Linked DNA regions of Homo sapiens: region 2 is reported to be linked to region 1. The links are microRNA targets in miRTarBase. Many come from high-throughput screens and were not tested one by one. Region 1 holds a microRNA gene; the other region holds the end of a gene's coding sequence.
What was found. The annotated mature microRNA hsa-miR-4305 reads CCUAGACACCUCCAGUUC and lies in region 1 at 2,048-2,065, shown strand. An mRNA with a match to its seed (bases 2 to 7 or 8) in the 3' UTR can be bound and repressed. Matches are read on the target gene's strand: a 7mer-m8 pairs with bases 2 to 8, a 7mer-A1 pairs with bases 2 to 7 and ends in A, and an 8mer does both.

Region 2: miRTarBase lists SREK1 as a target of hsa-miR-4305. Seed matches in the 3' UTR shown: 7mer-A1 at 3,447-3,453.

Annotation. Positions count from the first base shown.
Region 1 is chr13:39,659,173-39,666,172 of GRCh38, reverse strand. MIR4305 (microRNA 4305) reads left to right here and starts at 2,038; the gene lies at 2,038-2,139. COG6 (component of oligomeric golgi complex 6) reads right to left here. Exons shown (of 19, transcript NM_020751.3): 2 at 6,666-6,809; 3 at 5,292-5,363; 4 at 1,019-1,077.
Region 2 is chr5:66,177,824-66,184,994 of GRCh38, forward strand. It overlaps SREK1 (splicing regulatory glutamic acid and lysine rich protein 1), which reads left to right. Exons shown (of 12, transcript NM_001077199.3): 12 at 896-5,792. The coding sequence ends at 1,045. Among named protein-coding and RNA genes, the nearest start is that of LINC02065, 28 kb to the right of the region's middle.

The DNA of each region.
Region 1 (7,000 bases):
GATAAATCATAATTTACAACCCATTGATCTTGACCTGAACTACAAAAAAACACTAGTTGGATCAGAAGTCACAGACTTTTTCTGTAAAAATCTTGATAGTACATATTTTAGGCTTTGTAGGCCACATATGGTCTCTGTTGTAACCACACGACTCTACTGCAGTAGGGTAAAAGCAGCCATAGACAGTATGTAAACACAACCATAGCTGTGTTCCAATAAAGCTGCATTTACAAAAGCAGGTGTTGAGCTGGATTTGGCCTGTGGCCATAGTTTGATAACCTGTGGTCTATACTATAGTATACTGACCTACCCCAAAATCAGCAGTTAAAGTGGTAATATCTCCATATTACTGATGAAATACCTAGAATACTAAAAGGTTTAAGTGATGTACCCAACTACTGAGCAGGAGACAAGTATACTGCATCATAATATAATGCTTCTCCCCCCCTATACTACTCCACACATGAGAGATGCAGTTAATGAGTTTTAGCATAATTGCTATGAGTTTTAGCAATACTGAACACCACACATTACACAAATCCAGACTGTACTCACCTTTATTCACTCACTCACTCATTCATTCAATCAACCAATAGTATACCTATTGTATAAACTACAAGGAGAATTTATACAATTAACTCTTAATTATACCAGAGAGGATATATCATAGCTTAAAAATAAAAGACAATGATTGTGAAAAAAAAGTAATAAAACTATTAAAAATCTGAAAACATTTACATTTTAAAAAGCATCATTTCTGAACTCCACAGCAAACAATAACGATACATCATCACCTCTCTTCCAAAGAAGGAATAATCTCTCAACCTCAATGTCAAGTTTATTGCTCCTAAACTACTGTCTTTATGCTTAAGTTACTATTGGGTAATATAATAGTTTAGGACCTTATGAACCATGTTTTTTATTATTCTGCTTTAATTCTGATTTGGAGTTATATATAATTTTCTTTGACTCCAATCTCCAAATTATTGAAAAGGTGGTTGTATGAAGAAAAACTTACCTTTCAGATTGAAGCTTAGTGGTTTTTACTATTAAATCTTGAGTCTGTTCCTTTGCTGCCTAAAATTATAAACATATCTAATATAAGTAAATTCCAATTTTATTATATTTCAGAAAACAAATACTACCACTTACTGCAATTTAGACTTAAAACAAATGAGATCACTCTATGGAACTCAAAAGCACAATAAAATGAAATACGTAGATGTTTCAAGGCTCATCCACTGGAGGAACACACTCAGTTCTTAATATACACATAATGCTAAGGCTTACAAGAAAGAAAAAGGTATCCAGATACTGACAAAGGAACTTAATAGTTCATGATGCTTTTTAGTGCAACAGAAGCACTGGAAAAACAAGTTAAGAATGAAGAACATGACTTCAGGTATGGACGTGTTGAACTGAGATACCATGCAACCTTTACATGGGGTTGTTAACTAAGTCACTGAAATGCTAGTGTGGAGCTCAATAGAAATGTATAAGATGGAGGTAAAAGTTTGAAAGTTGTAATATACAAACTACCTGCCATATAAGTTTTTGGTGAGGATCAGAGCTAGCCCCATCTAAAGGACACAAGGCTGTTCCTAATCAACTTTCATTCTAAGCAATTCTCCCTTCCCTAAGCCAGAGTTGATCAAAAGTGGAAAGTCAATTAAAAAAGCATCTTATCCAAGATTAGAAAACATTCATGAAGTGGCTTTAAACAAAAGACAATGAGATTCTCTCTCAAATATCTGAACTAGGGAATATTTACAAAAATAAGGCAATAAACAATAAGAAGAGAAGTAGTCATGAGGCACGTAGAGAAACAAGGTCTGTGCCTTGAAGAAATATTAAATGAGCCAGAAAGATGCATAAATTAAGTCATTAGTAAAGTGGAGAAAAACACATAAAATAGAAGGTGAATCAGTCTGTTAAAGAGAAAATACCAGAGCAAACACCTGAAGACACTGGGTCATTTTCATGTTGGAATACCACAATAAAGAGTCAAGCTTCTGCTACTGCGGTTTCTTTCTAGAGCTGCCTTAGACCTAGACACCTCCAGTTCTGGGTTCTTAGAGGCCTAATCCTCTACAAACTCAGTTTTCAGACTGTGAGGGAAATTCTCTGTCTTATTGCTTTCTAGGTATGCTGTCAATAACAGAGCCTGATTGCCACCTCAAATGAAGCTATTTTGAGTGTATGTTCCCAGGAAATAGATTTTTTAAGAAAACAATTTGAACCTAGATAATTTTGCATATCCCTTATCTTTTTTTTTTTTTTTTAAAGAGGCAGGGTCTCACTCTGTCACCCAGCCTGGAGTATGGTGGTGCAATCTTGAGTCACTGCAGCCTTGACCTCCTGGGCCCAAGCAATCCTCCCACCTAAGCCTCTAGAATAGCTGGGACTATAGGCATGTGCCACCATGCCTGGCTAACTTATTAAAAGTTTTTGGTAGAGATGGGGTCTTGCTATGTTGCCCAGGCTGGTCACAAAGGATCATTCTGCCTCAGCCTCCCAAAATGCTGAGATTACAGGTGTGAGCCACCACGCCCAGCCATTTCACTGACTTTTAAGGAATGGAGCTCAACATGATAGCTCCCAAAATATTCTTTTAGAATTATTAGACTGCCAATAAGTTCTTCAAATGCTCATACTTCTTAAATGCTAAAGTTCCATTTCCACCCTTGTACAGTCTTGCCTTGTGCAATTTTTAAAATATAGTATCCCCTCAAGTCAAAGATATGTTTACATTTTAATATTTCTGAAAAAAAGAATGCTTCACAAAATCAACATCAAAAAACCTTTACTAGCTTTTTAGGCTAGTCGTTATTGAGGGTGCACCTTACAATCAACACCATTTATTAATCAATGAAATATGATAATTTAGCACAATGTTATATAATAAGAATTTGCTAATTTTTTTGCATATTTCCTGATTTTTTCATTTATAAACTATGGTAAGAATTCCAAAGTAATATTTAATAATATTAATGAAGATTAACCTCAATCTCCATTTATCTTAAATGTTAAAGATGATTATTTTTGAGTTAATAATAAACATATGCATCTAAATGCATGTTTATTATTTAAACATATGCAAGGAAAACCACAAAGGAATAAATATTAACATATATAAAATGACTGATTACATTTTTAAATGTTTTCTAATAATTTCTAAAAGGTACCATAGTCAAAGCATTTCAGAAAATATTAAATAATTAAATGAATCATTATAACAACATTCTATAAGAAAAAGGGAAAGTGAGGATACTCTAAGAAACACTTTTCTTTATGAATAACTTAAAAACATTAGAGTTGATATTATGAATGTATACTATTAGAATTCCAATAGTGCTATATCCAAATAAATTAGCTTTAAGCAAAATTTTAAGGAATAAACAAAACTTTCAAAATCATGGACCTCCTACTATTAAAAATGATATGTGGATCAAAAACAAATGTAAACAATAGGCAGTATTAAATATTTTTAAATATTCAATCAGAAAGCTATGAGGCAATCTTTTATATGTGATAAAAATGTTCTGTATCTTGATTATAGTTGTTGTTTCACAGGCATATAAAAATGCCAAGCCTATCAATTTGAACACTTTGAATGGATGCAGTTTATTACCATTCATAAATTATTCCTCAATAAAGTTGATCTGAATAAAGAAAGAAAATAGGCCCATGCCACTGCAGAAGAAAAAACAGGATGTGAGGTGGGTGCAAAGAAAATATAAAGGACTGGCCGGGCATGGTGGCTCATGTCTGTAATCCCAGCACTTTGGAAGGCCGAGGTAGGTGAATCACTTGAGGTCAGGAGTTCGAGACCACCCTGGACAACCTGGCGAAATCCTGTGTCTACTAAAAACACAAAAATCAGCCAGGCATGGTGTCAGGCGCCTGTAATCCTAGCTACTTGGGAGGCTGAGGCAGAATTGTTTGAACTCAGAAGGTGGAAGTTGCTATGAGCCGAGATCACGCCACTAAGGATACAGCGAGACTCTGTCTCAAAAAAAAAAAAAAAAAATACAAAGGACAAAACAGAAAGAGACACTTTGGTTGTAATTTAAAATATTTATAAACTGTTTGAAAAATAGCACAAATAAAAATACTATGATCTTTTTATATTTAAATCTCTCTATGATGAAAAGTATAAAAACATAATTAAGGATACAAATTAAAAAATAAGAGATACTATCACTAAAGATCAGAAACTGAGTAGTCTAATATAACAAAGCATAATGTTATTTAAAAAACACAAAAGTACAATATAGAAAACCTTATAAAGTATAATTTGAGAAAAGGCATTACGTCATGGAAGCTAAAAGAGGAGAAAAGGAAATAAAGTTAAAGAAAAAGAAGGGTCAAACAAAATCAACCACTGAGGAATAAAGTAAATATATGCCAAAAATGTGAAATGGCCATTAATAATTAGTATATATTATATAATTATTTAAATATTGTCAAATTAACAAATATCTAAATATTGGACTAAGAGACAATAAACATGCCAATAATATCTGATAGATTAGTAAGAATATCAAAATTTAGACAAGACCAGAAAAGATAAAATTTTAGAGAAACAAGAAATTAACTCATCCTGCAAACTGATGATGCAAGTAGCCTGTGATTAATCTGTAGAATATGCATTAATGATTCTTCCTAGAATCACTGTTGATGTCAATCGTTCCAAGAGACACTTAGAGATATAAATTCGCTGTTAAAATGTGAAGGCAGTAGACATAATCATGATTGGCCCTTAGGAGGAAACCGTTCTATGTACTATTCCAAAATTAGATGAATGAGGTTAATTAAGTCAAATGCTGATTCTGCTACCAAACTATAAGTTTAGGACTGCTTTCATTAAAAGACCTAAAAGTATACATATTTTCCCAGAATTTTTTAAGGTTATGCATAAATCAGAATTAAGCTAGGTCTTTATCAGGCACAGCTTTAGTGTGAAATTATTCCTAAGGCTTCTTACTAAAAAAAATCATTACTCCTAGATTTCTAGAATATTACGGAATTGAAAGGTTTATCAAAATTCTACGTAGTTAGCTCTGTACTGGCTAGACCAAAATATAAATGCTCTAAAGTTAATTGAACAATATTAATAAATCATTATCCAAAGAAACACAAAGATAGCTACAATTTTTAAAAATAAGGATTATATTTATACCCAAATTTCCTACAGGGCATTATGGATTAGATATCTACACATTTTGTCAATAATAATTTTTGTAAGTTTATATCAGGAACTATGCCAAAATCTAGCCATTATATAATACCTGTAGGCGACTTGTCATATCTTGACAACAGTTGCTCATTGCTTGAACATCTTCGCTTATGCTTTCAAGTTCCTGAAAAGAAGAAAAGTAACATCAAACATCATATATACAGCAAGAAGAAGATTCTCTTCTGTTAGCTAAATCCTTATTTTAGTTACATAATTTTTTATTTTTTTGGTCAAGGCATGACAAGAGATCCCATATTTAAAATTGGAAATGATTAAAAAGAATAACATCTAGTGTTAGAAAAAATGTAAAGAAAATAGTCCATTCCTTTTAGAGAATATGACCGCAGGAAAACAGCAAATGCTTTATAAAACTGAATATCCCTTTATTGCTAGTGTTATTCAATTGCAGTTACTCTTATTGATGTTCAAATAGTCTTATGTTTGGCCAGTAGAAGAATCCTCTTCACATTAGCTCCAAAGTCCTTTTGACATGTATCCAATAGTCTCAGATAGCATCTTTGCTTTCTGATACTGGTAAGATTGTTCCTTTTAGTAGGAAATGATGTTTAAAAGAGCCAGGCATGGTGGCAGGCACCTGTAGTCCCAGTTACTTGGGAAACTGAGGTGGGAGAATTGCGTGAGCCCAGGAGTTCGATGCTGTAGTGTACTATGATCATACCTGGGAACAGCCACTACACTCCAGCCCAGGCAACATAGCAAGAGTCCATCTCTAATGTAATTTTTTTTAAAAAAATCCTTTCCAAAGTATTAGTCTTCAGTCAATAAAAACCTACCAAGGTGTCAAAAACAACCTATTTTTATTGAACACTCATTGAAACCATGTGCAACACTTCCATAACTCACATAGAAATATATTAGTATTACAATGTATTAAAACAGCTAATAAAATATTACATAATAAAGATATAATAACATAAAATTTATTTTCACTCTGTGGTGAGTGGACTACACTCTCAAGTATGATGAATCATTATTAATACATTGAAGTTACTGATCTTAATCTGAAATTTTCATATTTTAGGATATAGTAAAAGTAACTCAATTCTAATTAATCTCCAGTAGAGAAGTTGTTATCCAAGAGAGGTTTATGCAATGAGGGGATATTTCTATTGGAAAGCCATTCAGGGAAATGTTAATTTTTTTGTTAAAAAAGCTAAAATTCCTAAGATAATCTTCTAGAACAATGTTAACTTTCTAAGAATTAATATTTGTGGAAGTCACAGATTCATAAATCACATTAATACAAATAAAGATCTAGATGCAGCAAGAGAAATTAGCTAAGCTTTCTATTTGGGCATAGTATACAAATAGCAAACATATCAACCTAATTCAAAAAAATACTTAGCACAGAGCCAGGCGTAATAGTAAGTTCTCAATATATGCTAAATGAAAAGAGTTTACATACCTCCTTCACTTCCTTGAAAATGCTTACAAATTCTTCATTGATGGCTAAACTTTTACGTTCAATATCTCCACGTAAATTTCTTCGAGTCCGCAGACTATTTTCAACAAAAAAGGTTGAAAGTGCCTTGAGAGCTTCTAACATCTCCTATACAATTGGTAACAGAAGACAGTTACTGGAACTAATTTTTAAATGGTTTCAAATCTCAAGACAAAATGTAATGAAATCATTTTCAAATGATTTATTTTCATTAACCAATCCGAAAAATATTGAATGACCTTCAAATTACTGAAGCATGCTTATTTCCAGAACACAAGAAGGGTATACTTACTTGTGTA
Region 2 (7,171 bases), not on the chromosome of region 1:
GTTGAAGAGATAAGAGCCAATTAAAACTAAAAAAACTAAGTTAAATCCTAACATGGCATGCAATAAGAAAAATTTAAGAAATCAACAGTAACAAATGTATTTGATTTTATGTAGATAGGATTTCTGCCTGATGCCATTTTCCTCAATTTATGTTTCAGCAAGTTTGAAAAGACTTTGTGTAGTTAACATTAGGTTTGTTGGGTTAGAATACCTAATGGAAAACCACATTCCACCAAGTGAGCTTTTTTGTCACTTGGATAAATACTTCAAGTAGTTGTGAATTAAGTTACTTACACTGGTAAAGTATATTTGTATTTGGAAATTATGAATTTTGGAACATCTATCTTATAGTTTTATGTACTGTAATACTGATAGACGATTATCATCATCATCAATAACATTGATAACATTTATTAAGCATTTACGATGTGCCGGGCACTGTTTGTTCTCATTTAACTCTTTTAAATTGAGGGTAGAAATTGGAGTGCTCTTGAACAGCCTTTTCCAGGAGGCATAGTGACTTCCTTTTCCACATTTCCTTATTTTTGCTGCATTGGTTTGCAGATTAAAAATCTATCCTGGCATCCTTGGAAATTATTTCACTCTTTCAATAGATCTGTCTCCGTTTTTCAAGTCTGTCAGCAACATTTATTGAGCACTTGCTTAAAATTTCTGTTCACCAATTCTAATTTAATTTCCATGGATTGTCCATCTTTTATGAGAACACAAAGGGGAAATTGATAGTGTTTGCATATTCATTTTGTGTGAAAACGTAATGAGAGAAAATCATACCCAGTTTTTTAAATTTGCAAAAGATAAAGTTTCACATTTTTGTCGTCATAGCAGGCAGTTCTTGAGGAAAATATTAAATGCATACCTTAATTACTCATTGTAGGAGAAAGAGCACAATAAAGAACCAGATTCAAGTGTGAGCAAAGAAGTAGATGACAAGGATGCACCAAGGACTGAGGAAAACAAAATACAGCACAATGGGAATTGTCAGCTGAATGAAGAAAACCTCTCTACCAAAACAGAAGCAGTATAGGACCGACAAGTGTACCTCTGCACTCAATGCTGGAATCAAATCCAAAGCTTTTAATTCTCTCAACAAGATGTAAACAGGAAAGAAATCTAGTTGAGCATGAAGATAGGATCTAACAGCTTTTCCAGTTGTTAGATGACTTTGTGGCCATCTTGTTATTGAGTAAGAAAATAAAGCATGGACATCATGAAAATAACAGATGTTACCCAAACTCATCTTCTAAAATCTGTGCATTTCCATGGTGGCTGACACACTTGTCATGTGGTCTGTTAGTGTTTGCCAAGAACCATTGCAAATAAATTGAACATCAAAGATCCAAGTTTGTACTATCCCTAAAGACTGGAGATAAGCATTGGAGGCTCTTTTAAAAAATGCTAGTTACTGAATTTTGTATTGTTTTACTTTTTTTTTTATTTCAATATATACAGTTTGATGATGTGCTTGAAATTGGTGCAAATATATACACACCCTTGTAAGTGCAAAGTATGTAAGAAGTTTTAACATTTACTTCACAGGACTTGTGATTGTGTTAAATTCTCACTATTGTGTTTTCTTTTGCTCACTGTTTAGGACAATTTTTCTTTAAAATAGTTTTGCAGATTAAAATTGCTTAAATAAGTGGATTAAAAAACTGACAATGCATGCTACTGTTCTCTTTCAAAAGGAAGAGCAACCGTGTTGAATACTAATAATGATGAATTAGTATTCAGTGTTTAGAATCATTGGGACTACCCACAAAGTGAGCATTTCTTTTTAAATTTTCTTGACATTTCCAAGCTTATTATGAATAATATTGCAGTGTGTCTTGTCAGCTGTAGGTGGCAAAGGTGCCCTTATAAAAAAGGAAACTGGCTTTTCAAAATGGGCTATGGGAGCACAAGCTGAAGCTTTAGTGCCTTCTACAATGTGGTATACTGTTTTCTAGAATTTTATATGTGCTAGTCATTCTCAATTCATATGGAATCTAGATGGATATTTCATGCATACCCATAGAGAAGTGTGTAAGTGATATGTCAGAAGAGCTTCTTACTGATTTCACCTAAAATGAGAAGGAAGTCCTGTTTTCAAGAATGACATTAGAGTCATGCAGCTTTGGGACCATCAGTTTTATACTGTGATAATTGAAAATGAAACATGTTCTTATTTTCCTTAAATTGAAGAAAACCCTTTAGTTGTCTACATTGGATGGCCTTATTACCTCTCAATCATCTTTTCATAAATGATGTGCAGAAATTGTACTTAAGGACTTAGGAGTATATGGGAGGTTATTGGTTTTATGTTTAAGGATACGTTTACTTGAGTTTAAGATACAGGTCATCCATCATTCTTAGGCTCACTTTTTACAGAAAGTATGCAAATAGTAAAGTGACAGCACTGCTAATGTTTTTCCCCAGTACTATAACTTGTGGTTTCTGAACTCATTATTGTTGTATTTCCAAAAAAGTAATACCTTTTAATTAGTGTATTAAAAGTTAAGTATAATTATTTTAATGCAATCTAATACAATCAGATTACTCAGTTGCCTTACCTCATGGGAAGAGTTACTTTTTTAGATCTAAAAAGCTGAATAGCATGTTAGTTACTTGGTTTCAACTTGAGTTTTCTTTTAATGTTAATAAGATTGAAACTTTAGTATTTAGTGGGGAATGGAAAGAGTTGCCCTTGTTGCAAGTAATGAAGCCTGATTTGATTATGAAGCTGCTTAATCACTCTTCATGTGTTCAGAATTACTGTTTTTTTTGTTTGTTTTTCCTTTTTGTCACTGTGTACATTAAAATTTTGGAAGATGCTTTACTATGTAAAGTATAGATGGTCATTTTAATCATTCAGCCACATACGGTTGGCTGGTAAACAGCTTATTCTGATACAAGAATGCTTGGGTGCATATGGAAAGATTGTGAAAGAGTGTGTCTTGCATCAACAGCTGTCTTATTTATGATATATAAGTAGAAATAGAGCAAATGTTGGAATCTGTTATTTTTAGTACCATGTCTTTAATAAAGCTAAGTATTTTAGAGGAAAATGTTTGTTTATGCATTTCAAAAAAGCATTTTAGTTTTATCCTGCTCATTTTAGTTGTCATAGAGATTGTTGTGACGTGGAGAGTGCATGTTTGTGTGGTGTCTATAAAACAAGTCATTTAAAGTATGAGTGTTTTCTTGTACTCTGGACCTATTACATGTTTCTTTATGTTGGTAATTAACATTTAATTTGGTTCTTGCTGCTAATTATTTTCTCTGCTGATATTTATTAAGCTTTAAAATAATCGTACTATAATCTTGAAACACTGATTTGTAAAAACTAAGAATGAGTAGGAATACAAGAGATCTGGAGGAACAAATCAGATTGTTATTAGGGTTTGACTTTTTTTTTACATGGGCTTATGGAAGCAAGGCATTCTAGGGTCTAGAGGGATGTGTGTGTGTGCTTGTGTGTCCATGTGTGCGCATGCGCACGTGTGTATCTGTTTGAGACATACTTTCTCTGTTCACTTAAAAGAGCTCATGTTTTCATTTGTTTATTCTTTTCTTTCAGGGTATTTTGTTTTTTTCTTTAAGACTTCTTTTTTTAAATCCCAGGTAGATGTTGTCAGATAAACTTGAGGTAAGGCCAAGAAGACAGACATTTTATGCTTCATACTTTCTGTAATTATCTTTTGTAGCTTGATTACATAGAGTACCCTCTCTTCCTTAAGTTGTAGTTGCTATTTATCATTGTAGACAAATTCTGTTGCCTTTCAGCAACGTATGCTGAACTAGTATCATAAGATGGTGCATCAGTTCATAAGCTAGTGCATAAGTTTTGTGTCAAAACTTTTAAATCCTGAAGTTCTGCAGTTATCATCTTAGTTATTTTCTATCTAATTAGCTTATAATTGCAAACACTAGTCAGCTTGTGATCTCTGTGTTTCAAGTTCTTTTCTTCACGAGGTTCAGTACCTGCTATGTTGATCTTTGGCAGTGCCAGAGGCTTAAATTTTGACCTGCTCAATTAAAAATAAACACTGGCGTTTATAATGAAAAGGTTTTTTTGTCGGGGGGGGGGGGGTCAAGAGAATTTATTTTGTGATAGTAATAATTTTCAAGACCTTCAGTCATTCCTATGTCTATGTTGCTATCTTTATTTTAAAACTTAGAACCCTGATCTAACTCCCTTCTCAAGTGAAGATACTGTGTAGATTCAAGAATTATAATGTAGAGTAATAGGCCTTTAAGTTTTTTTTTAATCTGTTAGAAATAAAGAGCATGATTTAATTATTGTTGAATTAACAATTAAAATGAATCCCTTTGGAGGGATGGCATTGAATAACTTATAATTTCAGTGAATCATTTACGTTTTCATTGGAAGACAGTATCTGATTTCAACTGGTGCGTTACGAAGTAGAGCCATTCCCACAAAGTAAATGTGCAGTGCCCATGTTTCTTGTGTTTAAATATTTTTTATTTTCACTACATATATATTATTTTCTCATGTTTATTTACTAATGTAATTTTCACTTAAAATTAGATGTTTATTTTCAAATTTTAAAAGCTAGTGCTCTTAAAAGAGCTAAATTATATTTCTGGAAGCAGGAGTTTAGTATAAATGTAATAAAATTTTAAAATAAAATTGACTTCCCTACTTAATCTTGGGTTTGTGGGTGAGTTTGTTTTTAGTACACTCTTATTGGTGGTTTTGCCTGAAGAGTAATACATTATTATTATTACTTTTCTTTTTGAGACAGGGTCTCACTCTGTCACTCAGGCTGGAGTGCAGTGACACGATCATGGCTCACTGCAATCTTGACCTTTCTCGGCATGGATGATCCTCTCACCTCAGCCTCTTGAATAGCTGGGACCACAGACATGTGCCACCAAGCCCAGTTAATTTTAGAATTTTTTTTGTAGAGACAGGATCTTGCCATGTTGCCTAGACTGGTCTCAAACTCCTGGGCTCAAACAATCTGTCTGCCTCAGCCTTCTAAAGTGCTGAGATTACAGGTGTGAGGTACTGCACCTGGCAATACGTTATTTTAAAAGTAAACGCTAAGCCATTTATGACTTTGGTTATATTCAGTCAGTTGGATTTAGTAACTAATAACTAGCTTTCTTCCATTCTAAGGTACTTTTATAGTTTCTAGCAATTAGTTTGTTACAATTAGCTTATATCAGATATAACAGTTCTTAATATAATGTTTATAAAAGGTTTTAAGTCTGTTGCCTGATTTTTAAATTTATATCTAGTTAACATTTTAATTTTAAAATTGCCAACTTTTGGGAGATTTCACATATTTTACCTCTATATTTTATTTTTCCAGGATTGGTATGGAGGAGTAGTACCTTCTATTCTTGGTTTATTTTTATTTGCTAGACATAATTTCTTAACTACATATGTAAGTATAAATTCATAAAAATCACACTGAAAGAATAGGTTGATTTCAACCATTTTGAGGGTACTGGTAGGTAACACACTGTTGGGGAATAAACTAAAGAATTTCTGATTTCTACAATAGATTTAAGTATGAAATTTGAGTATACTGTGTAGCTGTGTAGATCAACTTAATGCTTAAAAAATTACCTCCTTAATGATTAGATTAATAGAACAGTGTTAGATTATCAAGGGAAGAGTTTGGAATGTAAACATAAACATGCTGCATAGGTGGTGGTTATTTGTGAGTAGGACTACTTTTAAATGGTACTAGTAAAGATTTATCAAACAATGCTGCTATTATGTTGCTATATTTTTAATAAAATGAAAATCTTAAAATCTTGCCACTGTTGAGTAGTAATTTCACCTATTTCTGGAACAGTTATTTGCATATTTACATCTTATTTCTATAACTGAAAGGTGATAATAGGCTTTTCCAGGGTTCAAGATTACTACCAAAAATGGAAGGTTTTGCATACGGGGCAATCTTCGTGTTTTGTGGCAGTTAACTCCAGTCAAGGCTTTTCATATTAAACATTGTGCAGTATCCAAGTAAGTGATAGCTGCTCTCTGAATCTCCCTTCTCCCCAGCCGCCACAAATTCAGCTTCTTGCTAGGATATTTGTACAATGAAAACTATCACTTTGTCTTTTAACAACAGGTGGAATGCCTTCTCCCACTTATAAGAGGTGTAACTCTCCATTTGGTGAATGAGCTGTGTGCTCAGGGTGGTCACTTAGGTAAGACAGCCTATTAGCCTATTAGTCTAAAAAAAAAAATTACCTGTTAGATAAATTTAGAATCCTGCGTGACCTGATTGGCTTAGCTGGCCTAGAGATGTTGAGGCTATGTATATTGATTTATCTACATAGGCCATCTATCTTAGCTGCCTTCTGTGGCTAAAGGCCATGAGCCATTTTGGTTTTCTTTTCTTTTTTTTTGTTTTCTTGGTTTTTTTTTTTTTTTTTTTTTTTTTTTTTTTTTTTTGGAGACAGAATCTCACTCTGTCACCCAGGCTGGAATGCAGTGGTGCTATCTTGGCTCACTGCAACCTCCACCTTCCAGGCTCAAGCGATTCTCGTTCCTCAGCCTCCTGAATAGCTGGAACTACAGGTGCCCGACACCACGCCCAGCTAATTTTTGTATTTTTAGTGGAGATGGGGTTTTACCATGTTGGCCAGTCTGGTCTCAAACTTCTGGCCTCAAGCGAGCCCTCCACCTTGGCCTCCCAAAGTGCTGGGATTACAGATGTGAGCCACCGTGCCCAGCTGCCATTTTGGTTTTCAGATGTGTTAAACTGCATGTGTAGGGGTGGGAGAGCAGAGGCCTTTAAAATGCACCCCTTGCCAGTAGTGGGTTTGTGTGTGTGGCGTTCTCCACAGGACTTCTTGAAAGCAATGCCAGCTTAGAGTAGGAGCTGCTTTGAACAGCAGACTTCTACCAAATCGTAATTACTTAAGGAGTATCATTATAGTAATTTAGTTTTTATAATTATCATTTTCTTACCTTGGGAAGAACATCCTAAGATTTGCAGAAAAGTATCTCTTTTAAAAAGTATACTACCGTATTTAATGTAGGAATAACCACAATTGATGAGAGGTGGTAAATGGAATCAATTATATAGGCATGACCTTCAGTACCATGTTTCCCTCTCTCCTGAGCTTCAGTCACCTTTTCAACTATCTGACACTAAGAACTCACTGAATATCAGCTATTACAATA